Linked DNA regions of Homo sapiens: region 1 is linked to region 2. Evidence: fine-mapped expression QTL. A gene starts in region 2. The other region holds a variant in brackets. All regions are shown on one strand. Distances are between the middles of the regions.

Evidence for each region. PIP is the estimated chance that this variant, and not a neighbour inherited with it, causes the effect.
Region 1: its variant is fine-mapped to the expression of POU2F3 in unexposed skin (GTEx, PIP above 0.99).

Annotation. Positions count from the first base shown.
Region 1 is chr11:120,299,301-120,309,746 of GRCh38, forward strand. POU2F3 (POU class 2 homeobox 3) reads left to right here. Exons shown (of 13, transcript NM_014352.4): 5 at 324-426; 6 at 2,986-3,068; 7 at 5,730-5,912; 8 at 6,344-6,485; 9 at 8,179-8,315; 10 at 10,125-10,286. Among named protein-coding and RNA genes, the nearest start is that of TLCD5, 21 kb to the right of the region's middle. RefSeq lists enhancers at 6,396-6,913, 7,478-7,980, 8,253-8,422, 8,320-8,489. The variant A/G (reference allele first, on the strand shown) is at 5,740.
Region 2 is chr11:120,230,565-120,247,539 of GRCh38, forward strand. POU2F3 (POU class 2 homeobox 3) reads left to right here and starts at 9,576. Exons shown (of 13, transcript NM_014352.4): 1 at 9,576-9,807; 2 at 15,885-15,953. The coding sequence starts at 9,780. RefSeq lists a silencer at 4,558-4,780.

The DNA.
Region 1 (10,446 bases), 65 kb after region 2:
CATACCCAGGCTTTGCCTTCAGGGCATTTTATAGTCTAGTTGGGAGACAGGACTGACACATACAAAAATTAACTCAGGAGGCAAGGGTTAAGTAACAATATGTAGTAAGGACTCCTAGGCTGAGGGCAGAAGCTGTAACAATACCAGTGTTAACGGAGTAGCTACTATTTGCTAGACACTGGGGATACACAGTGGCATAAACCAAGGTCAGCCTGCAAAGTCTCTGAGTCTGGAGACCCCTGGGACGGACGAGTGGCAGGCAGATGGGGCTGATGTCCCCAGCTTGTAAATTCTGTGGTGTATGTGTATCTCTCCGTGTGTAGGACATGGCTTCCCTCCATCCGCTCCAGCAGCTTGTGCTGGTTCCCGGCCACTTACAGTCTGTATCCCAGTTCCTGCTATCTCAGACCCAGCCTGGGCAGCAAGGTAAGAACCCTGGGGGTTTCCACCTAGACCAAGTCCAGTCAAGTGCTGCTGTTGCTGCTGTTTTTTGCTGGGTGAGGGGGCCTAATTGGAGAGCATGCGTCAGTCAGTCACCCATCTGCTATTAAGACCTACTTATCCACCCCAGGGTCTGAGGAAGGGACCCTGGCAATGCTCCTCCAGGCTTAGTCTCCTTCTCTGCTTCCCCTTCCCAGCCTCCTGTTGGGTGGTCTGGTCCACCTCCTCAATTTCGTGGTGAGTGGAGACGGAAGGTGCAGGCGTGGAGCAGAGCTATGCTGTACAAGGGAGGGGAAGCGCCCTGGGAAATGCAGTACAGACAAGTCCCAATTCCTTGGAAATCTCTCCTGGACACAGATTCAGACTTGCTTCCTGGAAGCCTGGCTGTGATTCTATTTGGAGAGAGCAGCAGTGCCACCCACAGGTTGTAGAAAGGGTGTTCAGGTTTTCTTTGGCAGGGAAGTTACTCGCAGAGAACTTCTCCCTGGCCAAGAGCAAATAGATTGAACTATTAATAAATAGCTAACATTTCTTGAGCATGATGTGCCAGGAGCTCTTCTGAGTAATTTTTCTGACATTCCTCAAAATAACCTTGTAAAGTAGGTAGTTCTATTATGCCTCTGGTGACCTACTGGGAAGTTCCAGAACCGTTTAGCTGAGACCCATACTCTTGGTCATCACAGTGTGCTGCCTGTCCCACTCCCATCTCCATCAGCTAGGGTCAAAAGTGATGGAGGGTTGGCCAGGCTCGGTGGCTCACGCCTGTAATCCCAGCACTTTGGGAGGCCGAGGTGGACGGATCACTTGAGGCCAGAAGTTCGAGACCAGCCTGGCCAACATGGTAAAACTCTGTCTCCACTAAAAATACAAAAATTTGCCGGGTGTGGTGGTGCATGCCTGTAATCCCAGCTACTCAGGAGGTTGAGGCAAGAAAATCACCGGAACCTGGGAGGCAGAGGTTGCAGTGAGCCAAGATTGCACCACTGTCCTCCAGCCTGGGCGACAGAGCAAAACTCTGTCTCTGAAAAAAAAAAATAATGGAGGAAGTATAAACTCTCTCCTGTTGCACAAATCCCAAGTAGAGGTTTTGGAAATCCAGAATCCAAACAAAATGCAACTCTGCCTTCCGCCCTTAGCACCTGCACAAATGACAGTCACTATCCTTAGTTTCCAAGGCACCTCAGAATATTATGGTGATGAATGAGACCCTATTTGAATTTTTAAGTGTTTATTTTGGTTAAAAAATAAACATCATACTCCTGGAATGGAAAAGGGAAGGTAACAGTTTAATTTGTTTTCAGAAGACTGGAGAGCGACATGAAAATGGCCCAGGCTTATAACCACCTAGGTCAGTGTATGATGCAGTGGTGGAAAGACACTTCCAAATTTGGAGTCAGAAAAATTTACTGGTTTCTTTAAAAAGTCACTTACTAACTGTGTGTTTTGGGGAAAGTTACCTAACCTCTCTGAGCTTCCATTTCCTCTTCTGAAAAAATGGGATAATAGCAAGGCTCTGCCTCATGAGATTATTGAGAGTCACTTGAAATAATGCATGTGAAAAGGCTGTATCCATTTCAACCGCCATGTCAGAATTGCCATTAGTACCCAAGCCTCTCAACTCCCAGTTCTGGATTCCTTGTAAGAGCTTTCTTGCCTATGTATTTTAATAATGAACAATGAAGCCCTGACTTTTTGAAACTGAAGAGCATAAAGGTCAACATCAGCAGATGCTGTATGTACATTGTGACCCAGAACAGCCTAGGGAAAACAGAGACCCCAAAGTGCTGTTGAGTGACAAGCGATTGGGATGACCAACCCCATTGTCTGCTTTGGTGGTTTGATGGCCCCACTCCTGCTGGGAGAGTGAGCCACCAACCAGGCAGAGTCCCTCATGTACCGTTTTCCTGGGGAGGATGGAGAAGCCGGTATAATACATACTGCCCAAGGGAGTTTCCAGAGGCTCAGCCCTGGACTTTCCCTCCTCTCTCAGCCCTCTCTCCCAAGTATAAAATGTCCTGGTCAGCCACATGCCTCTGGCTAAGGCCCACTGCCCTTTAGAGCCGTATGGTCGTATCTGCTTGGTCTGGCATCCTCGCAGATTTGATTGGGCCTCTGTAGCCATAACCCAGCTACTTCTCCTGCAGGGAAAGCCAAAATCCTCAGCCCTAGCTTGAATTCTCAGCAGCCACCCTGCATCCTTTCCCTTCTTGGTTTTCTTCAGCTCTGGTAATCAGATCCCAGAGTAGATCGTCTTGACCCTCCTTAGCCTCTACGCCTCTCCAGACAGGCGGGCAGGTGGAAGGACTGGTTTGGGGACTGCTGTTTACATGTCTGTTTATCCCTGTATCTGATTTGCCTCCACCTGTATGTGGCAATGCCTGGCAGTGCTAGGAGGGCCTCTCCATGGGACTTGAGGTGGGTGGAGGGACCTGATCAGGTGGCAGGGGGTGGGGACAGTGATCGTGGTGCCAAAGTTGTAGCACATGTGTTTCAAATAGCCTGGATTTTATTTGTCTGTTCCTTTGTCCCTCCCCTTTCACCCAGGTCTGCAGCCAAATCTCCTCCCCTTTCCACAGCAACAAAGCGGTCTCCTCCTCCCACAGACTGGGCCGGGACTGGCATCCCAGGTAAACAACCCCATTCTTCCTGTTTCCTCTAGGAATGTCTCAGCTCTCACTGAGTTTAACTCACTGGTTTCCCCCTACCCCTTTAACAGGGCACTAACCCCTCTGGGGAGAGGGGATAGCAGGGAACTATCCATTGGCACAGGGGAAATCCAAGCTACAGCAAGTGGGGGGACAATTTACCAAGTGTCACTGGTGGGGCCACAGTTAGAATCCAGAGATTCCAGCTCCCAGGCCAGCCTCCTTCATGCTCCAGGCACTGAACTCCAACCCTGCACAGGCCCCAGCATTGCTCCTCTGAGAGCCAGGCTCAGCTCACTTCTCAGGCATACCAAGATGGCCACGAACCCTACCTAGGTGCTCTCAAGCCCCAAGAGGGAGACTAGAATACTACAGACCTGATGTCCCAGACCACAAAGCCAGTGTCTTTCACCTCTGGGCCACTATTCCAGATTGCCTCCTGCAGTGGGCACGTATATAGGCCAGTGGGCTGAGGTCTGGGAGAGGGGTTGTTTGCAGAGCTGCCATGGTTCCACACAGCACCTTTTTTCCAACTAGGAAAAAGGCACCTCTTCTGGCCAGGTGCAGTCTCATGCCAAGGTGGACAGATTGGCGACAGCAGCATGAGCTGTATCTTAGCTGCCATTCCTCCCCTGATCTGGGTGCCCCTGTACAGTTAATAACCTGCACAGCTGCATGAGATGGCTCTGCACAGATGGTTGGGCAGAATGGTTGGGAATGACTGCAGAGATCTCTGTGCTAAGATCCCCATGGCTCACCAAGAGCCCGGCCTTCAGAGAGGGCTGAGGCCACTAAAAGTACCTGGAGGGGAAGCTCGCCATCTAGTGGTTGAAATGGGGACACCAGCATCATAAGCTGCTCTTCCGCCTCCTCCTGGCTGCCCTCTCCAGAATCTCATAGCCATGGGCTTACAGCTGGAAGAGATCTTAGAATCTTCAAGATCAACTCTCATCTCTTATCATATTTTGGCATGGAGAGACTGGTAGCAGAGAGACCACATAGAAGATTATGAAGATCATCCAGGGGAGGGGTCATAAAGGATTGGCTTAGAGTTGTGGCAATAAGAAGAGGGGATGATTGAGGAGATGCTTTGGGAAGTTGAATCAGTGCAGTTTGCCAGTGGATTGGAGATGAAAGGAGGAGGGAGAAGGTCTAGCAGAGAGCCCCATAAGTCTTTGTCAAATGAAAGAACAAATGATTTAATGAAAAGGAAGGTTCAAAGAGGACTGGGGCTTTGTCCTGAGGGTCTGGTCTATGCCACACTCTCCTCACACACCCTCTCCCTGCAAACTAAGACCAAATTCATGATGGTTTCAGACTAAAAGACCCTTCACTGGGGGAAAGACTCCTAAACTTCTCTCTAGAGGTCCTTTTACCTTCTTCATCATAAGGATACCTATCTGAATGGTAAACCCAAATATCCCAGAGGAGAAGAAGTAATGTTTAGTCTACAAAAAGTAAATCAAAAAGGAGAGAAGAGGTGGATTTAGCCCTTTGAGCTAGCTGGCCACAGTGCCTGGACCCCTAGGCCCAGATTCCACTCTATCCTTGTGGAATGATAGATGTCCTTAAGATCGGATTCATTCCTGACCCCAAATAGGCACAGCATGGTTCTAGGTTTAAGGGTACGTTTTCCTATGAAAATAAGCTCAAGAAATAATATTTGGCTGGGCACGGTGGCTCATACTTGTAGTCCCAGCACTTTGGGAGGCCAAAGCAGGTAGATCACTTGAGCCCAGGAGTTTGAGACCAGCTTGGGCAACATGGTGAAGCCCTGTCTCTAAAAAAACAAAAGTTAGCCAGGTGTGGTGGCACACGCCTGTAGCCCCAGCTGTTCAGGAGCCTGAGGCAGGAGAATGACTTAAGCCCAGGAGGTTGACGCTGCAGTGAGCAGTGATTGTGCCACTACACTCTAGCCTGGGTGACAGAGTGAGATCCTGATTCAAAAAAAAAAAGAAGAAGAAGAAGAAAAAGAGAGAAAGAAAGAATATCTCCTAGCAACCCAAATGTGATCAAGGTGCATTTTATAAAGGTACTGATTAAAATACCTTTGATTAAAAACAAAACACTTTCATGAAAGAAAATGGTGGTTTAGAAAGTAAAATGAGGCACAAGAGTTTGACATTTTAGGAAAGTTCTATGAAGGCCATGAGTTATTGGATGTCCCCTGTTATCTTCAGTTAATGCCTGTTCAACACCTCAGTTACCTGCTTTATGGAAAAAAACAAAAAACAAAAAAACAAAGCAAGCAACCTTTTCTTTGTCCAGTTCTGTGATTTGTTTTTGGAATCTTTGTAAACAACCCTGCTAGCTCCTTTTATGGTAGAAAACTGAAAGGAGGAAGTAACCTGCTAAGACTCAAAAAGTGAGTCACAGGCTAAACTCAGGCCACCTCCCTATCCTGCACTCCTGATGTTTCTACCCAGATATTCCAGTTATTTGCTATACATTTATAGAAACTTTAATTTCCACTTCCATGCCACTGGAAAAATATAAGACTCCAATGTACCCAGGGTGTATCCAGGGATCTGTCATCCTCTAAGTGGGCCTATTAGTAAAAAAAAAAAAAAAAAAAAAAAAAAAAATCAGAAAATGTTATTTATTGATCTTCGTGGTGGATCTGCTTGGCGTGTTTCCTATCAGGCATTTGGGC[A/G]CCCTGGGCTGCCAGGATCCTCTTTAGAACCCCACCTGGAAGCATCCCAGCATCTCCCAGTGCCCAAGCATCTACCCAGCTCTGGAGGGGCCGATGAGCCCAGTGACCTCGAGGAGCTGGAGAAGTTTGCCAAGACCTTCAAGCAGAGGCGCATTAAGCTGGGCTTCACACAGGTTTGGTTTTAGGGGAAAAGATAGAAGAAGTCTAGCCGAGCGGCTGGAGACTGGGCTTCCCAAGTGCAGGTTTCAAGAGCGACCAGAGGCTCGATGTGTTTGGGGTCTCCTCATCATGTCCCTGAGTTCTCTGAGAATAGGGCACAGTTGCCATTGGTAGGGAAACTGAGGACGTTGCTGGTGGAGGAGAATGAGAGGTGGAAAAGGGGCTGGCTCTCCTGAGCACGTGGGCGTGGTCCACTGAGAGTCTAAGGAGAGAAAGAAACCGATTCTTCACCTTAGAGGGAGGAGACTTGGAAAGGAGCCGAGCATGGGTGAGCACTCAAAGATTCAGGCTGGCTGTGTGATCGATGCTAGGACCATGCAGGATGTGGGCAAACAAGAGGAGGAGGCTGCCTCTCATGTTCCTCCCCCTCGGTCCCCACGCTTAGGGAGATGTGGGGCTGGCGATGGGAAAGCTGTATGGCAACGACTTCAGCCAGACCACCATCTCACGATTTGAGGCCCTCAACCTGAGCTTCAAGAACATGTGCAAGCTCAAGCCCCTGCTGGAGAAGTGGCTGAATGATGCAGGTAGGCCTCGCAAACACGGATGCCAGGGGCCCTAGAGGGCTCTGCAGGGAAGGGCCAGTGACTTGTCGTGTTGGGGCTTTTGGGAGTTTGATACCTAACACCCCCTTCTTCTCCTGAGACTGGAGCCGATGGAGAAACAAGACACAGGACACAGGCAAGTGTAGATGAAAGTGTCAGCTCGACTACTGAGAAGCCCTCAGAAGGATGTGGATTTAGGTCTGTGTCCATCAGGATTTGTCCCCATTCCATTCCTACCCCATCCCACCCAGCATAGATCTTAGGACAGCTTGCCAGCAACAAAGTCTGGATCTGCAGAGCAGATACACTTATGCAGATTGCTGTCTGGAATAAGTCTAGTCAGGGATACAGGGCAGTGGGGCCTCTAGGGTCTCACTGGGAGGGGGAGACCACAGGCACGACACAGGGTCTTTCCCTGGGTAGTTCTTGAGGAGGTTTTCAGCAGACAGGGACTTACTGCAACCCATGCTGGTCAGGAAAGCCTGACAGCAGGAATGGGGTTTGCAGGAGGACTCAGTGAGGGGTGGTGGCCGGGAGGCAACCCAGGAGATCAAGCGTGTAAGCCAAGGGACCTCACATTTGGCAGCAGGGACTAGCATACAGGATGGGGCTTCTCAACCTTGGCACTATAGACATCCTGGGCCAGGTCATTCTTGTTACCAGGGACTGGCCTATGCATTGCAGGATGTTTTGAGCATCCCTGGTCCCTACCTACTAGTTGCCAGTAGCATCCACCCCCAGTTGAAACAGCCAAGAATCTCTCCAGACATTGCCAAATGTCCCAGGGGGAGTGGTGGTGATGCAGAGTCCCCCCCGGTTGAGAACTGCCGGCCTAGGCAGAGAGAGGGAGTGAGCCAGTCTCCAGGGCTGGGCTCTATTCAGTCGATTCATATGGATTCGTGGTTACACTGGAGAGGGAGAAAAGGGTGGGGCAGCCAGCCAGGGCTGTTACTCATACGGAAGGGCCTCCACACGCAAGCATGGGAGGGGGCAGGAAGCTCCCCCTACAGGCTGTCCCTTAGACAGCCTTTATGGAAGCACTGAAATGAGCGAAATGATCCGAAGGTCTTCGAATCTCTGGGGAAGGGCCCTGTGACCATTCCTAGTCTCCATCAGATGCCTGAATCCTTCCTCAGGGATATCCCTCCTATGGCCCCTACAGCCTTAGCTCAAACATTTGCACTGGCAGGAAAATGACTCCAACACCAACAGTCTGTCACCAAGTGCCATTGCTTTTGGCTGCAAATCTCATTTCACATTTCACTCAGTATTCACATCCAGGCATATCTGTAAACAGCAGCCTCACGAGCATTACTCACAGGAGCCCTGCCAGTGCCCCCTTACACCCACATGTGTCACCGATGCATGAGCATCCCTCAGCTGTGACCCCAAACACTGGAGACACTGCTGTGGGGGCCACAGAGGGCCATGGAGGGTCACGGAGGGCCACAGAAGGCCATGGAGGACAATGGAGGGCCACGGAGGGCCTTTGCCCTGAGCAATGAAAAGAAATAGGATTCTTGGTCTGTTCTGGGCTCCCTGCTGGGGGAGGGGATTGCTCCTGAAAATGCCACTGCAGAGCCCATCGGGAAGGGTTGTTGGACCTCAGATCCATGAAGGCACCGGCCACTCATCCCCTTCTCTGAGCTTCCTCTGGTCCTTCGTGTCCCTGCAGAGTCCTCTCCGTCAGACCCCTCAGTGAGCACGCCCAGCTCCTACCCCAGCCTCAGTGAAGTATTTGGTAGGAAGAGAAAGAAACGGACCAGCATCGAGACCAACATCCGCCTGACTCTGGAGAAGAGGTTTCAAGATGTGAGCAGCACCTTCGGGTGGGCACGGGTGGGCTACCTCACACAGGTAGGGAGAGCAGACACGGCCCAGGCCCCTTGGCACCAGCCCCTCCGCACCTCACACCTGCTCTGGGACACGATCAGAAAACACATTATCCCACTCCAGGCGCCCAGGTATTGGAGTGCAAAGCTGCCCTCCATCTCAGGTTCCAGGAACCTCCTCCTCCTCCACTGACCCTTCTTGCCCTGACATCTATTTAGGGCCCTTTGTTTTTCTCACTGGGAGATTTAAAGAATGGGCTATAGGGTCCCAGAACACAGTGTATCTCCGTATCCAGTTGAGGTAAAGGGAGCAAAGTCAGGGGATTGTATGTAAGTTCTCTATTTTCTATGCAGTACATTTTGTATTTTTCAAATTATAAATGTAATAAATGCTTATTGTAAACAATTTAAGTGCAGGGAAGTAGAAAGAAAAAAAACGCCCATCGCCAAATGCCATCTGACCTCATTTCCTTCTACTCCTTCTTTTCTATGCACATTTAGATACTTGTGATCGTGTTATACACCTACGTTTTTTGGAACTTGTAGCAAAAGCATGTTTTTGAGCCAGTATGTGGAAGCTGTGAGCCCCGTGTGGGCTGGGGAAGAGAAGAGGGAGAAACAGATGTGGCCTAGCCAGCCTCTAGCCAGGCTCCCTCAGATCCCAGCCTCCAGAGCCGCCATGGGTACCACGCGTCTCCAAAGGCCCCAGGCCTCCAGGACTGCTGCCCCTCCAGCAGATTCCTCGCACATTTAGCTCAAAGATTTGGTGCCCATATCCAGCTAGCAGAATGACAGGAACTGGCTTTTCCTTCTTTTTAGGCTTTCTAGAGTGGCAAGGTTAAGGGAGGGTGTAGGAGTAGGGGAAAGTGGCCGGGGCTAGAGACCAGGTGTGAAGGATCAGAACAAGGGAGTGGCGCCCGTGTAGCATGTATTGCTATGCCACAGTCCTGATGGGTCCACATGTTTTAGCTTTCTCATTTTCTGCTTTGAGACAGGAGGACAGGAAGAAATGACAAGGCAGGCCAGGCATGGTGACTCATGCCTGTAATCCCAGCACTTTGGGAGGCCGAGGCAGGTGGATCACCTGAGGTCAGGAGTTCAAGACCAGCCTGCCCAACATGGTGAAACCCCATCTCTACTTAAAGTACAAAAATTAGCTGGGCGTGGTGATGTATGCCTGTAATCCCGGCTACTCAGGAGGCTGAAGCAGAGAGAATTGCTTGAACCCGGGAGGCGCAGGTTGCAGTGAGCGGAGATCGCGCCACTGCACTCCAGCCTAGGCAACAGAGCGAGACTCCGTCTCAAAAAAAAAAAAAAAAAAAAAAAAAAAAAAAAAAAAAAGAAATGACAAGGGAGAAGGACATCAGGTAATAAGGAAGAACACAGAAGGGAGCAGCAGCTCTGGGGACTCTACCTGCCCCACATAACTCATCCATGGACTTCTCTCCTCTGAACTCATGAATGAAGGAAAGACAGCCTACATCTATGGAGACCCTACTTTGTATCAGGCCCTGTGCTTGACAGTTTACACACATTTTCTCATTTAATTCTCACAATAATCCTATGTGGTGGGCATGATTATTCTCATTTCATAGATGACAAGACAGGCTCAGAAAGGTTAAGAAAGTTTTGTAAGGACACGTAGTAAGTGAAAAAGCCAGTATTTCATCCTAGGTCTGACTCTAAAGCTTTTGATCCATGTATAGTTGTATCCTGTTTCTTTGGGACCTCTGTTCCCTGCCCCTGATTCCCTTCTCTTGGCCATACTCTGTCCTTTCGGTGCCTATAGAACCCAAAACCCAGCTCGGAGGAGATCTCCATGATTGCAGAGCAGTTGTCCATGGAGAAGGAGGTGGTGAGGGTCTGGTTCTGCAACCGACGCCAAAAGGAGAAGCGAATCAACTGCCCTGTGGCCACACCCATCAAACCACCTGTCTACAACTCCCGGCTGGTGAGTGGCCAGGAACCAAGCTGTCTGCCAAGCACTGGAGGGACATGATGCTTGGAGGGGAAGGTGGTGGCTGCAGGGAAGAGGGGAGCATCCAGTAAATAAATAAGCAAAGAGATGCTGTATAGAATATAGTATAAAGAAGGGCGAGGGAATAGAAGGG
Region 2 (16,975 bases):
GCTGCATGTATTGGGAAAGGCTTTCTGGAAGAGTTGGGGTGTGGGTTGAGGCTGGAAGATGGTAACGATTTGGCAAGGTGGAGGCAGGAGTGTTTTAGGGGTTGGAAGAGTCTCATGGGTTCCCCAGGTGACCCAACTTTCTCAAGGAAGAGATGGGGACAGTCAGATCCTTCCTTGAAGGCCTTGGCGAGGGAAGGGGTTTGCAGGGTGGTCCCCTTTACTCTGCTCCCAGAACTCCCAGAACAGGCTGCAACTGCCCCTTGAACTCATGCAGGCCAGAGGGTTGAGGGAGCTGGGCTTGCTTGGCCTTGGTTGAGCTGAGGGTCAGCGGGGAGATAACCTTTTCAGGTGGGCACACCTCCCTTCTGAACCTGTTTTCAAGGACCAGCTCAGCCTTGCTGGGGGATGGGGAGGGAGCTGTCCCATCAGTCACCCCCCAGTCCTTTTTCTCCTTCCCTTTCTGCCAGGGCCTCCATCCCAAGCCCCAGCCATTGCTCCAGGTGGGCAAGGGATACTTGGAGAAGGCACCTGCTACCTCCTGTGTGCCTTTTTTGATGGAAGGGGAGTCCCCAAATCAGTATGTTTTCCCTTCTGATTTCCAAGTCACCAAAAATAATGCTTTTTTAAAAAGCAATGTTTTCAAGACTTGGAGTGTTTTTCTGACCTTCCTTGACTAGCACCTCCTAGCTTGTCTGGCCCCTGCAGTGAGGGGGCTCTGGACACCATCACTACAGACACCAGCTGCCTTGGGCTCCTTAGTCTCAGGGGATGGTGATGAGAAGAATCCCTGAGACTTTGGGCTGACCTTAACACTCTGCAAAGTAGGCACCTCCCACAGGGCCACATCCAAGGGCTCGAGTCCACCATTCCAAAGCACTCGCCCAACCGCCTTAGCCCCACTGTCACAGCACCTGAAATCCTGCCGTGACAGTCACTTCTTTGCTGAAAAGCAAATTTTAGTGTGCATCAGAATCACTTAGGAGCTTGTTGAAATAGATGTAGGTGGTCAGCTGTTTGGCAAACACTGAGATAAGACTTCCCTATCGCAGGAGGCTTTTGTGGCCGTGTAAAACACTTGGGAGTGGTAATATCAGTACTTATTTCTCTGCGGACTTTAGGGTTTACAATGTGCCTTCATATAAATTGGCCATTGGCTCCTTGTAGTGACTCTGTAACATTTTATAGATGTGGCTCCCTTATAAAATTGTGTGACCAGCCCAAGTTCAAGTCCAGGCATCTTGTTAGAACAGAACTGAGATCCAACCCCTGTCCTTCTTACTCCACACCCCCTCCCAACCCAAAGTGCTTTATGAGGTTGGCCAGCCAGAACTTCCGAGAGCACAGCTCACCCACAGGAGGGGACCTAGGCTTCGGTGGGACGGGGAGGAGTGTGGAGTGTAGAGCACCTGCTGGGCCAGTCTCTGTAGTAGCAATCATTGAACATGTGGGCAGGGGGTGGTGGGGACAGTGTCCAAAGATTCCTGGGACCAGAATTGGCAGGAAGAACTGCCTGATTTCCGTTTGCCAGGGTAAGCAAAGCACCCTCGGGGAGGCCAGAAACCCAGCCCTGACTGGTGCTGCTGCAAGCCGGGAGGATGAGTTGTGCCTGGTTCCCTGGGCAACCTCACCCGGGCTGGGCTGGACCTCACTATGGACTTCCTGTGGGTTTTCTTCAGGCATCTCTCCCTTCAGGCTTGTTAGCCAAGGGAGGCCTTCAGTGGGGGAACTGTGGGCCACAGCTGGAGGACCTCTACCCCAGGGTCTTTATTGGACCTGGCTCTGGTGGATGAGGGGACAAGGACTCCGGCAAAAAGGAGGGCAAGTGCCACTCTCAAGAACCAAAGGCTCGAGGCCAGCATTGTATCTGAGGAGCATGGGCACCCGCTGGGGCCCAGCTCTGTGTGACCTTGTGTGGGTCACACACATCCCATAAGAGAGAGGGTCTCACTGGGTTATCTCCAAGGTCTTCCCCAACACGGGCATTCCATGTCTAATCGCCTAATATTCTCCCAAATGGTCTATTGGCCATTTGGCTACTGATGGAAAATCGAATTGTTTACTGTGACTTGCTCTTACAAGCCAGGTTGTAGGCAGGAATAGAAAAAACAGGCAACTGACTCTAATCCCAGCACTTTGGGAAGCCGAGGCGGGCAGATCACCTGAGGTCAGAAGTTCAAGACCAGCCTGACCAACATGGCGAAACCCCCTCTCTACTAAAAATACAAAAATTAGCCGGCGTGGTGATGGGCGCCTGTAATCCCAGCTACTTGAGAGGCTGAGGCAGGAGAATCGCTTGAATCCGGGAGGCGGAAGCTGCAGTGAGCCAAGATCGCACCACTGCACTTCAGCCTGGGTGATGGAGTGAGACTCAATCTCCAAAAAAGAAAAGAAAAAACAGGCAACTGGAATGTCTGTGTCACAGGCGTGAACATTGTAGATGCTGTCAGATCACCCTACAGCTGGGGCCGTTCCAGTTTACACACAACTAGCAGTGTCTGAAAGTTCCCGTTCTCTCATATTCCTGTGGTATCAGTCAGGGCTCTCCAGAGAAACAGAACCAGTAAGATACACACATAGAGAAAGATTTATTTTAAGGAATTAGCTTGCTGGATTTTGGGGTCTGGCAAGCCCAAAATCCTAACAAACTAGCAGTCTGGCAGCTGAGGCAAAACTTAATGTTGTGGCCAGCCGGGAGTCTGAAATTTGTAGGGCAGGGCAGCAGGCTGGAAGCTCAGGCGGGACTCTTGTGTTATAGTCTTAAGGCAGAATGTCTTCTTCAGGAAACCTCCATTTTCGCTCTTTAGGCCTTCAACTGATTGGATGAGGACCACCCGCAATACAGGGGTGATCTTTTACTTAAAGTCAACTGATTATAAAGGTAGTCACGTCTATAAAATACCTTCACAGCAACGTCTAGGCTAATGTTTGACAAAACAGCTGGGTATGAGAGCCTGGCCAAATTGGCACATAAAATGAATCATCATGCCTGCCATCGCTTGGTATTGTCATAAACTGTTCGCTGTTTGACCAGTGAGAAACATGACAGCATTCCAGGGCTTATTCTCAGTATCAGCTATTGGCTGTAGCCAGGTGACAGCTGGGATGGTTGTTCCCCTCCACCCTCCTCTGCCCTCACCTGGGATTCCTCACCCTCTGGCTTCAGCCGATGAGAAGCACTGCAGGTGGGAGCACAGGACAGCAGTGGGGTGTCAGTTCCCTGCTGGCTGCCTCAGCACCACACATGTGGCACTGGCTTCATTCCTCCAAGGCTCCAGATCTTCCGGGGCTCCCATACCACTGTCTCCTCCTGTTGCCTCTTCTGCCCTCGCTTCTCTGTGCAGCCCCTCTCTGGGTGCTGGTTCCCTTAAGCCTGCTGGCATCTCTGTCAATAACACCTTTGTTAGAGGCACTCCGAGTTAAGTTGGTTCTGTTTTCCTGCAGAAACCCTGACTGATAACCACAGTGGCCCCAGCTGGGGACCTAGAAGGTTAGTGGTAGAAGGGAAGAGGGTAAAAGCGGGTGGAAAGTGTAGGCTCACTTGGTGGGTATTCAGTGCAGACCTCCATGGAGAAGGGCTGGACCTCAGGAGCTCTCAGTGGAGCCAGGGAAAGACAGTCACAAGGGTGGTGTCCACATGCCCCTGGGGGGCAACTATCTCACCAGCCCTGGCTCCTGTGACAAGGTCCTGATTCCTAAGCAGGGAGAGGCAGGATGAGAGGCAGCTCCCTCCCCTCCTACATCACAGAAAGCAGAAGCCTCGAGAGGAGAAGCCTCTTCACCACTCCCTGGCCTACGCTGGCACCCACCTTCCCAGTTCCCCTCCTGACCTCATGGAGACATGTCTTTTCTCCCCACTCTCCCGGACCTCCCTCTCTGGGGGAAATGATCCCCTCTTCCTCTAGCATTGCTCCCTTTCCTGCTTCCTTCCCAGTGGCCCTGGAGAGTTCGCATTCTTTCTCATCTTAAGAACAAAATAAAAAAACACCTCAAAACCAGGTCCCTCTCCACCTCTGCCCTATTTCTCCCGGCTCCTTCACAGACCACCTTTTTGCCAGCATCCTCCTCCCCAGCACTTTCCAACCTTGGAATCGCTACTCAAGGCTATGCAGCAATCAGCTAGGATATGTGTCACAAGTCATCTGTTACTGAAATGGCTGAACTATTTTCACCGAAGTCAGGGCAGATTCCAGGTCCTTCCCATGTGAATATCACCACCCTCGTGGCTCCTGCTTTCGCGCCTTCACACTCAGTCCTTGTCTATACGCTGATCCCACGGGGATCAGTGCCCTTTGCAGCTGCAAAGGGAAGTACAGGAGGTAGGACATTTTGACTGGCAGAGATGTCCAGCAACAGGACGGATAGCCCAACGGGCCAGGAGCACCTGTCACTGCGTTGACTGAGCAGAAACAACCAAGCTGGCTGACTCCAACTAGGGTTCTGGGCTGAGGTCTGGTCTTTGATGGGGAGCAGGGACTGGAAGACCCAATGGTAGTCTGAAACTAAAATTCAACATCCCCATCTTGCCTAGACCTGGGGCCCTCCCCTGTGCATCCCCCAGCCATGGATGGGCACTCCTGTGAAAAGATCTCTCCAGGGTCTTGCAGGTAGAGGTGCAAAAGTCAGGGTCACACGCCCCTGTGACCACGAGAGGGCGCGCAGGGCCTAGACTTGCCCTGAGCGTGTAAGTGGATTGGGAAGGTTACCTGGGGTGAGGTGGGTCCAGGCAGCCAGGAAAGGGCTGGCTGAGGCAGAGGCTGAGGCTGGGCTCTGTCGAAGGTGCAGTTAGAAAGATCCAGCTCAGGTCCAATGCCGGCCTCAAAGTCAAAAAAATTGATTGGAAGCAGAGTTGCTGTTATGTTGTCTTTAAATTAAATATATGTTGCTATTATCAATGATTCTGAACTTTTAAGTGCAAAATGGACAATGAATGTGTGTGTACTGCCCCCCGACATGGGTGAAGGCTGGGTATGGGGAGATGTCTCTTGGGCAAGGGCAGGGGGTATTCAGCATTAGAGACATCAGAGCAGAGAATAGCTCTGTATCCTGACTCTGGTGTCCTCTACCCATCCCCTCGCCAGTCACAGTTACCTTATCCTGGTTCCCAAGACACCTTTCACTGTGTCACCCTGACACGAACCCCACCTCCACCAAAAGCCTCCCGGCAATGATGCCCTCAGATGTACCTTGACATATGATTTAAAACAGGCCTGGAAGTCCTTCCTAGCCTCTCCCTTGCTCCCATCTGCTTTTATTGGGAATCTGAGTTTGGATCCATTCTCTTTGATCACCCTGAGGCAAGGAGCTGACCCTCTCCTGTACCCCCACGCTCTGGGCCCCATGGCCCATCTGGCAGAAGGAAAGGGCTAGAAGGGACTTGTTCCTTGGTGGCCTTCCAGGATGCCTCACTCTCCGCCCTTCTCCTAGCCCTGACAACTCAATCCAGCTGACAGGACAGGAAATGGGAGTGAGCCCAGGGTCTACAGCCAAGAAGGTCCCTTTTCCCTGCTGAGGTGGGGATGGGGCTTGGGCCCACTCCACGCAGTACCCTCTCCAGGGCTGTGCACCATTTCCACCCACTGTGTCTGGAAAGGAGGCTTGACTCTTAGAGCTTTCTGTCCTTGAAACAAAAGAAGTTGATGATATGTTCAAATAGAAATGAAGCCTGGGGCACTAGTGACTCCCTAGAGGTGCAGCCAAGGGGGTTAGATGTCACTCCAGGAGACCCCGGAGGACCTGGGGAGGGGTCAGAATTGATGACAGTTTCAAAACCACAGCATCCTGGAGTAAGGCTTCTGCTACTCTGAAAAAAGTCCTCCAGCTGTTGAGAGAGGTGGGGTAAGGGAGGGAGGGAGGGATGATTTGCATTTAATTTGCATTTCATTTACATATAGTTCTTTTGATGTCCAAAGGCACAGAAATTTCCTGTCCTGGCTTCTTTTTCCCTTTCTTTCTTCTGTTCCTTTCTAACCTCCAGGCAAACCCCTATCTCTCTCTCTTCCCCACAGCTTTTCCTCTCCTAAGCTAAACAGGGACAGGGAGTATCAGGCTCAGGGGGGTTGACATTTTCCTCTCTATCTCACTCCAGCCCAGAGCTCAAAAAACCGGTTTCATGGAGTCTCCAAGAACTGCTAAAGGAGGAAGGGGTAAAGGAGTTCTCTACGTTCCCATTCTAGCTCATCTAACTGAAATGATCAGTGAGCAAGTCTGAGAGAGAAGGAATAAAGATTGCTCACCATTCCCCCTCAACCCTATACACAGGTGGGACTTAGAGGGCACCCCAGCCTTCTAAGCCTCAGGGCACATGAGGGAGAAGCAGGGAAGAGTAGAAACGTCTCTGCTGAGCCATATGTTTGTTCTGTTTTCTGGGGTAAGTCCCCCTCCTTGTGGGCCTCAGGTCCCTCAAATGAAGGGTTCAATGATATCTAGGTTCTTTCTACCTCGTTATCTGATAAGAGAAGGGGAAGCTCAGATTCAGAAACTGGAGGGCAGGACTAAAATCCTGGCTTTGGGGTTGGCAGCCCTGGGTCTAAATACCAACTCTGTAGTCTACTAGCTGCGTTTACTTCTCTGAACCTCAGTTTTCTCATCTGTAACGCAGGGCTAATAATTGTACCTTCCATCTAAAGTGGCACTGACTAAAATCAGATGGTGTATGTTCAGCATGGAGCACAGTTCTTGGCACGTAGGAAGCACTCAATCTATATTCATTGAGTGAATGAGTAAATGAATGAATGTGAGGGAGTATCTGCTATCCTCTCCCCACCCAGCCCCTTCTGCCCCGTTCATCCTCCTACCTCCACACTCCAAGTTTGGAACCCAAAGCTGTGCCTCCAGCTGTGAACCTCCAAGGTCCTATCTGTGCCTCAGCTTCCACCCCAATCCCCACAAGAACTCCATATCCCCATTCCCCCCAGAACCCCAGAATCCTAGGCTGCTGGAGACAGAAGGCCCTTTGAAATTATCAAATATGGGCCTCTCTGACTTTTGGAAAACTAAAGCCCAGAGAAGAAATGTGACTTTGCACATGAAAAAGGGCAACGGGCCCCAGATAAGGTGGTCGGAGAATGAGACCCTCGGTGCACATGGCCATGCAAATAATATGCAAATAGAGATATGGAAATCACAAGCACACAGGGGTATATAAGCTGTGTGCAGGCATTTTTCCAGAATGGTGGTAGGTGAGTGCAGTTGTAGGTAAGAAATGGACTTCAGGGAAGGGGCCAAACCTGAAGTTGGGGAGGAGAAGAAAAGGCCAGAAGGGGATGGGAGTTGGGGGAGTGTTGAATAGGAGGGAAGGAAGGAACAGAGGCTGAGAGTGTCCTGAGAGGGACCCCCTTGGGCCTCCAATAAGCCCTTGCTGGTCTCTTTCCTCACCCAGAAGAAACAAGAAAAAGTGCAGGGGACGGTGGCTCACACCTGTAATCCCAGCTCTTTGGGAGGCCGAGGCAGGCAGATCACCTGAGGTCAGGAGTTTGAGACCAGCCTGACCAACATGGAGAAACCCCGTCTCTACTAAAAATACAAAATTAGCCGGGCATGGTGGCGCATGCCTGTAATCCCAGCTACTCGGGAGGCTGAGGCAGGAGAATCGCTTGAACCTGGGAGGCGGAGATTGCCGTGAGCCGAGATGATGCCATTGCACTCCAGCCTGGGCAACAAGGTAGAAACTCCATCTCAAAAAAGAAAAAGAAAAAGAAGCAAGAAGAAGTTTCTCTCCTCCCTTCTTTTCGGGAGCGTGGGGAAGGGAGGTCCATGTGACTGGGGAGGGTGGTGTATGTGGACCTGAAGAAGCAATTAAGTGCTTCCTGTTCCTCTGGGGCCACTGTAGCACCCACAGAACACTTTCTGATACCTGTTGTGTGCCCAGCCCTGTTCTAGGTGCTGGGGTGCTGGCACTAGAATGAAGCAATTGATCAGTTACCAACCAGGGGGTAAGCTAAGAAAAGGCCCTCAGAACCTGCCACGAAGGCTGTTAAGAACATGGAACTTAGGCTGGGCGTGGTGGCTCACACATGTCATCCCAGCACTTTGGGAGGCTGAGGCGGGTGGATCACGAGGTCAGGAGATCGAGACCATCCTGGCAACGTGGTGAAACCCTGTCTCTCCTAAAAACACAAAAATTAGCTGGGTGTAGTGGCACGTGCTTATAGTCTCAGCCACTCAGGAGGCTGAGGAGAATCGCTTGAACCCAGGAGGTGGAGGTTGCAGTGAGCCGAGATTGCACCACTGCACTCCAGCCTGGCAACAGAGCAAGACTCTGTCTAAAAAAAAAAAAAAAAAAAAAAAAAAAAGAACACGGAACTTAAACTCTCTAAGCCTCATTTTCCCCATCTATAAAATGGCAATAATCATAGTACAATGTACAGGTTTTGAGGACTAAACAAGAACTAAAGGCACGAAAGATGCCTTTCAAGTGTTGGTCACCCCAGTGCTTGATACACAGTGAAGGCACACGAAATGCTGGGTGTTATCGTGGGCATGACTGGAGTGCACGGTGGGATGGGCGTGCCAGGGGGAAAGGACACTGTAAACAAGGTGTAGAGGCAGGAAAGCCCAAAACCTGTTCTGTGCTCAGAAAGTAGCCCATGGGACTAAGGAGAAGACATGTTCATGAGGAGTCCTGTCTGGGAAGGAAAGCGAGGCCCTGCCCTCCTGTCTGCACACAGCTTTCTGGGCTTCCATGCAGGCCATCCTGTGGTGACAGACCACTTACTGGGACTTGAAGAGACGAAGAGAAAGGGGTGAGCCTATGATGGGTGCTGCAAAGAGCACTGGAGTGGGAGTCCAGAGACCTGATTCCAGCCAGGCTCTGTCACTAGGGAAGTGTGCACCTTTGAGCAAGCCGCTTCCCCGCTCTGGAAGGTGGCTGTCACCAAAAGCCTGGGCACTGGTAACTTCCACATCCATCATCTCGTAGAGCCTCACAGCAACCTGGGACCTGGGGCGGGAGACTGGAGGGGCAAGCAGGAAGCAGTTGTGTGCACCTGGAAACTCTGCTAATAATAAACTGCACCCCGTCTAAATCCCACAATGCTGTGAGGATGCCATGGGGGCTAGGTGAGCTTGGTCACCTGCTCAGCCCAATAGGGAACCCGATTAGCACCTGTCCTGTTTTACAGGTGAGTTAAATGAGCTCAGGGAGGTGAAGAACCTTGTCCCAGCCACACTGCTGGTAAGCGGTTGGGAGGCGAGATTCCAAAACTGAATTCTTTCCAGCAGACCCCCGCGACTTCTCCAAACACTCCAACTCCTTGCAGCGCTTACACTTCGCGATCTGTCCAGAAGGAAGCTCGGGCTCAGGCTGGAGAACCCGCCAGGGCTTCCTAAAAAGGGCGAGCAGGACCAGGAGTTGGCGCCACTCCGGGCGCGGTGAGGAGGTGCTGCCAGGCTGGGTTGGAGCAGGCAGGTGTTCCGCGGGATCGAGACCCGCCCCGGCAGCACCCCCGGCCCCCTCCCCAGGTCCCCAGCTCCATGTATGCAAATCACTGCTTTGCATGGGCCTGGGGCCAGGCGCGGGGCTCCTGCCAGGGGGCGTGGCCGGCGGCCCCCGCCCCGCGCCGCGTGCTCACCTGGGGAGTGTGGCAATCCTGGCGGCGCCGAGTGTTGCCCGGGCCGGAGCAGCGGAGCGCGCGACAGTGGCGGCGACGGCTCCGGCAGCGGCTCCCGCGGCGGCGGCGGCCGGGAACTGGAGGAAGGAGACCCTGGCTTCGCAGGGGCCCCGGCTGGGGCAGAGGCGAGGGGCCTGGGGGGGCGCTGGCTTTGGCCCCGCCTGGGGCAGGATGGTGAATCTGGAGTCCATGCACACAGGTGAGGGGCGGAGGGAATGAGCTCTGACAGGTGTCACTGCGCGTGGGCAGGGGTGAAGGAGAGGGACAACGTTCTGGTTAGGGAGGGGGGCTTGTTTCCCAGCGGCCAGGAGAGGGCGGTGTGGATAGCGGGTTGTCCTGGGGTGGGTGCCGGTCAGTATTTGGGGACTAAAGGGAGGGGATCTGGGATAAGAAACCCTGGAAAAGAATGAGGGTGGGGGCTGGTGAAGGGCGGGAGGGCTTCGAAGCCCCCGGTCTGGGGAGTGGCAGTTGTATGGGACGTGGGTGTACTGAACTGTCATAGTCTCAGGAGGTTGCAGGGATGGGTGGTTCACTCACTCAGCCAGGGGTGTGGACCTGGGAGTGCATAAGTGAGGGAAATGTGTATGTCCACATGCTGTGTGCTGGTGTCCGGGCATATGTGTGAAATGGAGGCAAAGCGGACATTTAGGTGGTTGGGGGGCTTAGGAGAAGTGGCTGAGGTGGGGCAATTACAGAGGTGCCCCTGGGGCAGGGGCCATGCCCCCATGTGTTTGAGAAGGGATGGTGACAGACACATCCTCTGGGTTCCATGTCCCATGCCTTCCTTCCCTAAGGGGTGGAAACCTAGGAGATGCAAATGCTTTGCCGGGAGTCAGGCTTCCCTGAATGAATGAATGAGAGGTGGGCATGGAGGGAACCCAGCCCCTCCATTCACCTTGCTGTTCCTCCTTCCACAGCTGGGCTAAGGCAGGAGCTGCCAGGCAGCCAGGTTGGGCTTGGCTTGGGGCTTCCTGTTAGGGTGGGCCTTCTGGAGGTCACAGGGCCTGAGCAAAGAACAAGTGAAGAAAGCGGTACCTGACCTGGCCATTTCTAACCTAGCAACTTACTCTCAAAGTGGGCAGGACCCAGTGATCTTTCTTTAGGATTTCGGGGCTGTTGATGGGAATGTTGTTACCTGGTCTCCTTTCTGGGAGAGTAGGGAGGAGGCAATGCTCCAGACCCACCCCAAGAAGCAGAGCAGGCCTGAGGCCTACCCAGCCTGAAAACAAGCGTCAGTGAGTGCCCGGAGGGAGGGGACCTGGAGTGCCCAGTTCCCCAGATGCTGTTTCCTGGCAGGGCTGAGTGAGAGGCAGACTGGCAGTGAGATGTTGGCACTGAGTGGCTCTCCAGGACGTGCCAGAAAGGCTAGGTGAGGCGGAAGAAGCCATCCAACTGGGTGTCATCCAGAGTCTGAGGAAAGTCTGTTTCTAGACTGGGCATACCTGGGGCAGATCCCCGGGTAGGTGCTCTCCCCTTCACTGCCCGCAGAGAAGGCCAGGGTTTGAATGGGAGCAAGTCTCTTCAGAAAGGTGGGCTTAGCAGTGGATGGGAAGTTTTTTAGCACCAAGATCACAGACTTCCTGGGGGTTTTCCACCTCCTTGTCTACTGGAGGCTCCCATTCTGTGGAAGTGGGAGGGGGTGGGACAGTTGGGACCCAGCAGGGAGGCAGCCTGGGGCCTCAGAGGATATAGCAGAGAGCAGAGAACACCAGAGGATGAGGTTGAGGCATAGGGCTTGGCCTCTATGCCTTCCCCAGGAGTGAGCTCCTGGCTGATGCTTCTCAGAAGCCCAGACACCTTCTCCACCCTGTCCCTGTGAGCAGGTATTCCCGACACATGGGGGGAGACTGAGCTAAACCCCAGGTGGGGTGATTCCTCAGGGCGGGATCTCCATGTACCTGGGGGTAGATTGCCCAATTCATCTCTCTCCATTTGCCTGCTCCCTCCCCAGCCCATTCCCCCCTCAGGGCTACCTGGCCTCCCTGTGCAGTTTCTGGGTCTTGGCCCCTCTGTAGTGTCTGAGGGTTCCCCTTCAGTGGCACCTCCAGAGGTCTCTGAGTTTAGGACTTTCTGTCCCATCTCTCTAACTGGGTCTCTATTAGAGGGCTCTCTTTGCTGGGTCCTCCTGGTGGCCTTTACTGTTCAAGATCTTCTTTGTAGGGTCTTCCAGTGCGCACCCTGCTGTGGGGTCTGTGAAGGAGGATCGCTCTTCCCTCTATGGAATATCTCATTATGGGTCCCTCTCTAGGGTCCCTTAGTCCAGGATCCTCTTTTGGAAATGTGGTCTCTTTTGAGTCCCATTTTCCCCCGCCAAGGTAATCCTGTATCCTACTGATCTTGATAAATAGTACTTCTCCTGTGAATTCCCAGGGCTGGGTCCTTGGGGTCTCCTCCTTAATTGACTTACTGGAGGAGTTTGGATGGGGGAAGGAGGAGGAACAGGAGCACACAAACTAGAGCATAGGCTTGCTCCCGGGTCGCCCACTCCAAGGGCTCCACTCGCACTGAGGCCAGCTGGAGTTAGCCCCATTGTCTTGCTCTGATAACCTGGGTACGAGCCATGATTCAGGTCTGCCTGGAGCCTTCGCACCTTGTACTTTATAGAGCATCTCTCACCTGGAAGCACAAAGACCTGAGCAGGCAGAGGGTCACCAGACACAGGGGCTCTGCAGCAAGGAGGGGCTCCCTGCTCCCTGACTAAAAACAGGCAGAGAAGTAGACCCGAGACAGCCAGCTAGGGAGGCAGATAAGAGACAAAGGAAAACAGTGGGAAGCCAGCGGGCGGGGGCACACCTGGTTTGCCCCAGGTGTCTCTTTCTCTGCCCTTCTCCTCACTGTGAGCTTTTCCCCACCAAGGTTGGGAAAGGGGGGCTGAGTCTCACAGACGGGTGCCAATTGGAGCTCAGGAATAGCATTTGGGTTGGAAGGCCTGATGATGGGACTGAGAAGAAATGAGAGAAGTCTCCTCTGGCGGAGAGTTGGAGCCTTGGCTAGCTCAGAAGTGGGGCCGGTGGGTCCTTTGAAGTCTCCCAGTGGAAGTGCCGCCATCAGCAGGTATGTGCGGGAGGAGCCAGAGGGAGCTCCCGTCCTTCCAAGAACATGAAGATGGACACTAGGAGAGAGGGCTGTGGCTTCTGCTTTCCCAGAGTAGCCTGGTCCCAGGAGGTCCAGGACCCTCAGCCTGCAGCCTGTGGGGAGTGCTTCCTCTCGAGCTTTCTTCCCTGGGGTTCACAGATGTCTAAGGAGGGCCCACTCCTGGTCAAGCCAACGCTAACTTCAGGGTGTGATGGTGCTGAGTGGGGCAGCCAAGGGTCTGCAGCTGGTGTCTGGGCTCTTTCACAGAGCAGCTGAGCCTCCCCAGGGAAGGGAGTGATGGCAAGGAGCCTACTCAGTGTCTGGCTGAGATAACACAGAGGAGCCTGGCCCCACCCCACACCTCTCTCACTCACCCCTGGCAAGTGCTGTCCGACAGGTGAAGGGTTACAGTGTCTCAGGGAGTTTCGGTGTTGGCCCATTTTTAGGCTGAGACCCAAAAGCTCGTCCCACCCATCAGCCTCAGCCTCCTACCCAACAGGAACAGGTTCTCAGTGTCTTAGCATCCTATGGGACTCAAGAAGAGGCTTGATAGGTTATCTCACCCTGCCCCTCCAATCCTGAAGTGGCACCTTGTTGATCCCATAATGGATACATCAAATGAGTAGACAACATGGCAGATGAGGAGGGGAGGGGGTTGATGCCTTTGAAAGTTATTTTTAGACATGATTAAGACTAAATGTCAGGCTAACTTGAAGGATGAATGAGAGCTTCTGTGTGTATTTGATGAAGGTGATGTGGAGAATGGGTGTTGGAGGAGAATTTGGGTTCTAGGCATGCGATTACAGTTTAGCTAAAGAATTACCTTCTTAAATTTCAGGAGTTTGAAATGAGTTGATTCAGAGACTCTGGTCATCATCCCAGCGTCACTGCCTCTTAACTTTTTCCTGTCCTCATGAACACTTTTTCTGTGAAGTCAGAATTTGGAGAATCCTAATGGTTTCCCAGATAAAGGACAAATTACAATGGTGCTGAGACAGAAAACCAAAGCTATTCCTTATAATGGGGCAAGGGGTTAATGGAGGGGCATGAGAAGAAGGCAGGAAGGGAAGCGGACTAGCATCTAAGCCTAAGTGTCTGTTTAATTAGTTCATTTATTAGGTGCTTACTTTGTGCCTGGAACTCCTTTCCTGGCAGTTTTCATTCAGTATTTCATTTAATCCTCACAAAAACCCTGGGAAGTGTATATCATTATTCTCATTTTTAGGTGAGAAAATTCACATCCGAATATGTGGCTAGGGTCCCCTAGCTAGTTAGTGATGGCATTGAGATTAATCCAGGTTTGTCTGATGCCAAATCCCATGCTCTGAATCCTGGTGCTGATGAAGCAAATTGAAACCACCAGTGGGGGAGAACTTCCTGTGCACCTTTCCAGCAGTCTCTGACTCAGGGCCTCTTCTCAGCACTGTTGAAGAATCCCCATGGTGAAGTATGAGCTGAGCAGATCTGCGTTAGGCAATGCCCAGCTCCAGGGGGGATAGTACTTAATGGGTGGGAGAGGGGAGCCCGTTTCTCCATTGGAACAGAAGGCCAGTGGCAGCAGAAGCCCTTTGCAAATGTGTCTGGGCGGTCCATAGTAGTTATTCTGCATATTCATGCATGGCAAACTATAGAGAGTTTGAGACTGCAGCAGGACGGATTGAGGTTAGGCTCAAGAAATGCCTCCCTAAACGCTGTGCACTAGGAGGGGAGGGGGTGGGGTAAGGTTGCAGGTCTTCCTCAGAGCTCTGTGACCGACCACAAAGTGCAGTGTAGATTTGTCTGGGGAGGGTTCCATAGAGCTCTAAGTGTTTACCTTGGCGTCTTCCCTCAATTTGGCTGGTCTTGAAAACTCCTTAAACCACAGTGACTCCTGACTTTCTCCCCTATTTCTGGGGTATTCTAGCCTCTAAATCTCTGGATCCCCCATCTATGTCTTGTTTGGCATCGAAGCTGCTACACTCCAGAGGTGTACACCTCGGCCGGAGCCACACACGTTAGTCCTCACACACATGAAAAAGTAGGTTTTCTCCCCTCTTTCCCTGGGGCACAGGTCTACCCTTTTTCCTCATCCTGATCATCTCCAGACCTGGGCATCCGGACTGCCAACTGCCTGATTACCTGATGCAAATTAAGACTGCCTGCTTGACTGGGATTGGCTGGGGAGCTGAGTACGCAAATTGGCTCACCAAGACTTTATCTGGTTTGAAAGAGTTAAAGTGCTGCCCCAGAGAAGGGGGGGTGTGGGGGTCAACATGATTTGAATAAATATTCTTCTGTCTTTAAGGCTTCAGTCTTTGGGTGGTTTAATAAGGAGAGGAGCAGAGAGAGAGTGAGTTGGTTCAAAGTTGCCTCTCTTCTTCCCCCTGCTGACCCCAAGAGGAGACTTAGGGGCCTCCCACATAGGTGGTGGCAGCTGTCTGTTAAGGGTAAATGTTTAATTTATTGAAATGAAGCAGGGCAGAGAGGCTGGACCAGCAGGACTTGGGGGCTGAGCCAGGGGCCTGGTGTAGGTATTCTCTTTCTGTGGGGCACTGACCCGCTGCCATCCCTTTCTCACTGAGCCAGTTGAAGGAGTAGGAGAGAAGGTAAGGATCCCCAAAGGACAGGATCTCCAAGGAGGACAACACAGGAGCTAGGACTTGATCCCCAGACTGTGGGCTGACCTCTGAGACCAGACAGAGAACCCAGGCAGGACCTGGGAAGAAAGGTGAGAAGGGCAAGCCTTGGTTTAAGGGCACTCTTACCTTCCAGGATGGGGTTATTAAGGGAAACAGAGCTGGGGAGGCAGGCGGGGAGGGATAATTCTTTCACTATTTAAAAATAAAATAAATTCCTCAGATCCCAAAGGAAACGAGTGTTGGAAATGGGAAGTGTCCCCTCCACCCCCTTGTTAAATTTTTACCAACTGAGTCCTGGTGATAGAAGCAAGTGGCCATGAATGATGCAAAAGGTGAGAGACCCTGCAGTGGCACCGGGGAAAGGGGAAGAGAAAGGCAAGGAGAGGAGGCGAGCATGGGAGGAGGGGATCCGTGCCCTCAAGCTTATGAATATTCTAATGGTTGTATGTTCGGGAATCAGGAATTTGAAAGTCTGATGGTTGTTGTAATTACACATTCATCTTTGTTATTTAGTTAAAGCCACATATGTCATAGCAAGAAAAATTGTGACCTGTTATTAAAATCAGTTGTGTTTTCCCTGCAGATATCAAGATGAGTGGGGATGTAGCCGATTCCACGGATGCTCGCAGCACTCTCAGCCAGGTGGAGCCAGGTAAGGGTCTTCTCTTCTCGGGGATGGAGGGGGTGGGGGGAAGAGAGTTGTTGGGAATTGTTGAACAACTGGTGTCTCTTCTTGCTTGGTCTTTCAGCCAACCAGACCCCAAAGCTAGGTCTTAGGAACTAAGGGAATTCCCTGAGGACATGGGATATGATTCTGGAGCCTTTGAACAGTAGATATTGCTCCACAGTGGAACAAAACCTCTGGAATTAGGCTAGGAAGAGACCAGATACTTAAAAACAGAACAAAACCAAAAAAGTTCAGGAGCAGCTGTGTTCCCAACTGCTGTGACTGGCAGAGGCAGAACCTGTCTTTCTTAGATGGGGACAAGGCCTTTTAGCCCCAGATACCTTGATAGTCCTACTCAAGGCACTAACCAAAGAGGCCTGTGTACAAATGTTTCTCTTCCAAATAACGTGCATGTGGGTGGCAAATAGGCTCAGAGAGAAAGGCTTGGTGCCTGGAGGTGACTTTGCTTTGGAAAGAAGGGAAAGGATGTCAGTAGTCCCAGCTAGTCAGCAGGCCAAGGTGGGAGGATTCCTTGAGCCTAGGAGTTTGAGGCTGGACCGTCCCAAAAAAAGCTGAGAGGAACAAAGAAGAATTAAAAAAGAGAGTTTCATAGCTCTCTATTTTTACCTCCATAGTTCAAGCCTTGCTTTGAAAGCTCCATATAATTAAAAAGAACTTAAAGATGAGTATAAATTGTAGCACCACCAAATAACTTTAATAGCATTCCAACCAGACCTCAATTAGTCTTTCATCTGGATCATTAGAGACATAGAAATTAGAAGTGGAAGAGAATCAATGTCCCCCAGAGCTAAAATCTTTTTCAAATCTTGTAGAGCAGTGTAGTTCCATTCTTGAAGCTATGAGATTCTTGTCAGGGGCAAGATAATTGGGGGTCTTGGCGGGGAGGGCATCCACAGTATGCATTTGCCATAAACTTTTCTGCTCCCCAGTTTAATACTGAAACAGTGTTTCCTTGCACAGGTAGCAATACACATCAAACTACAATC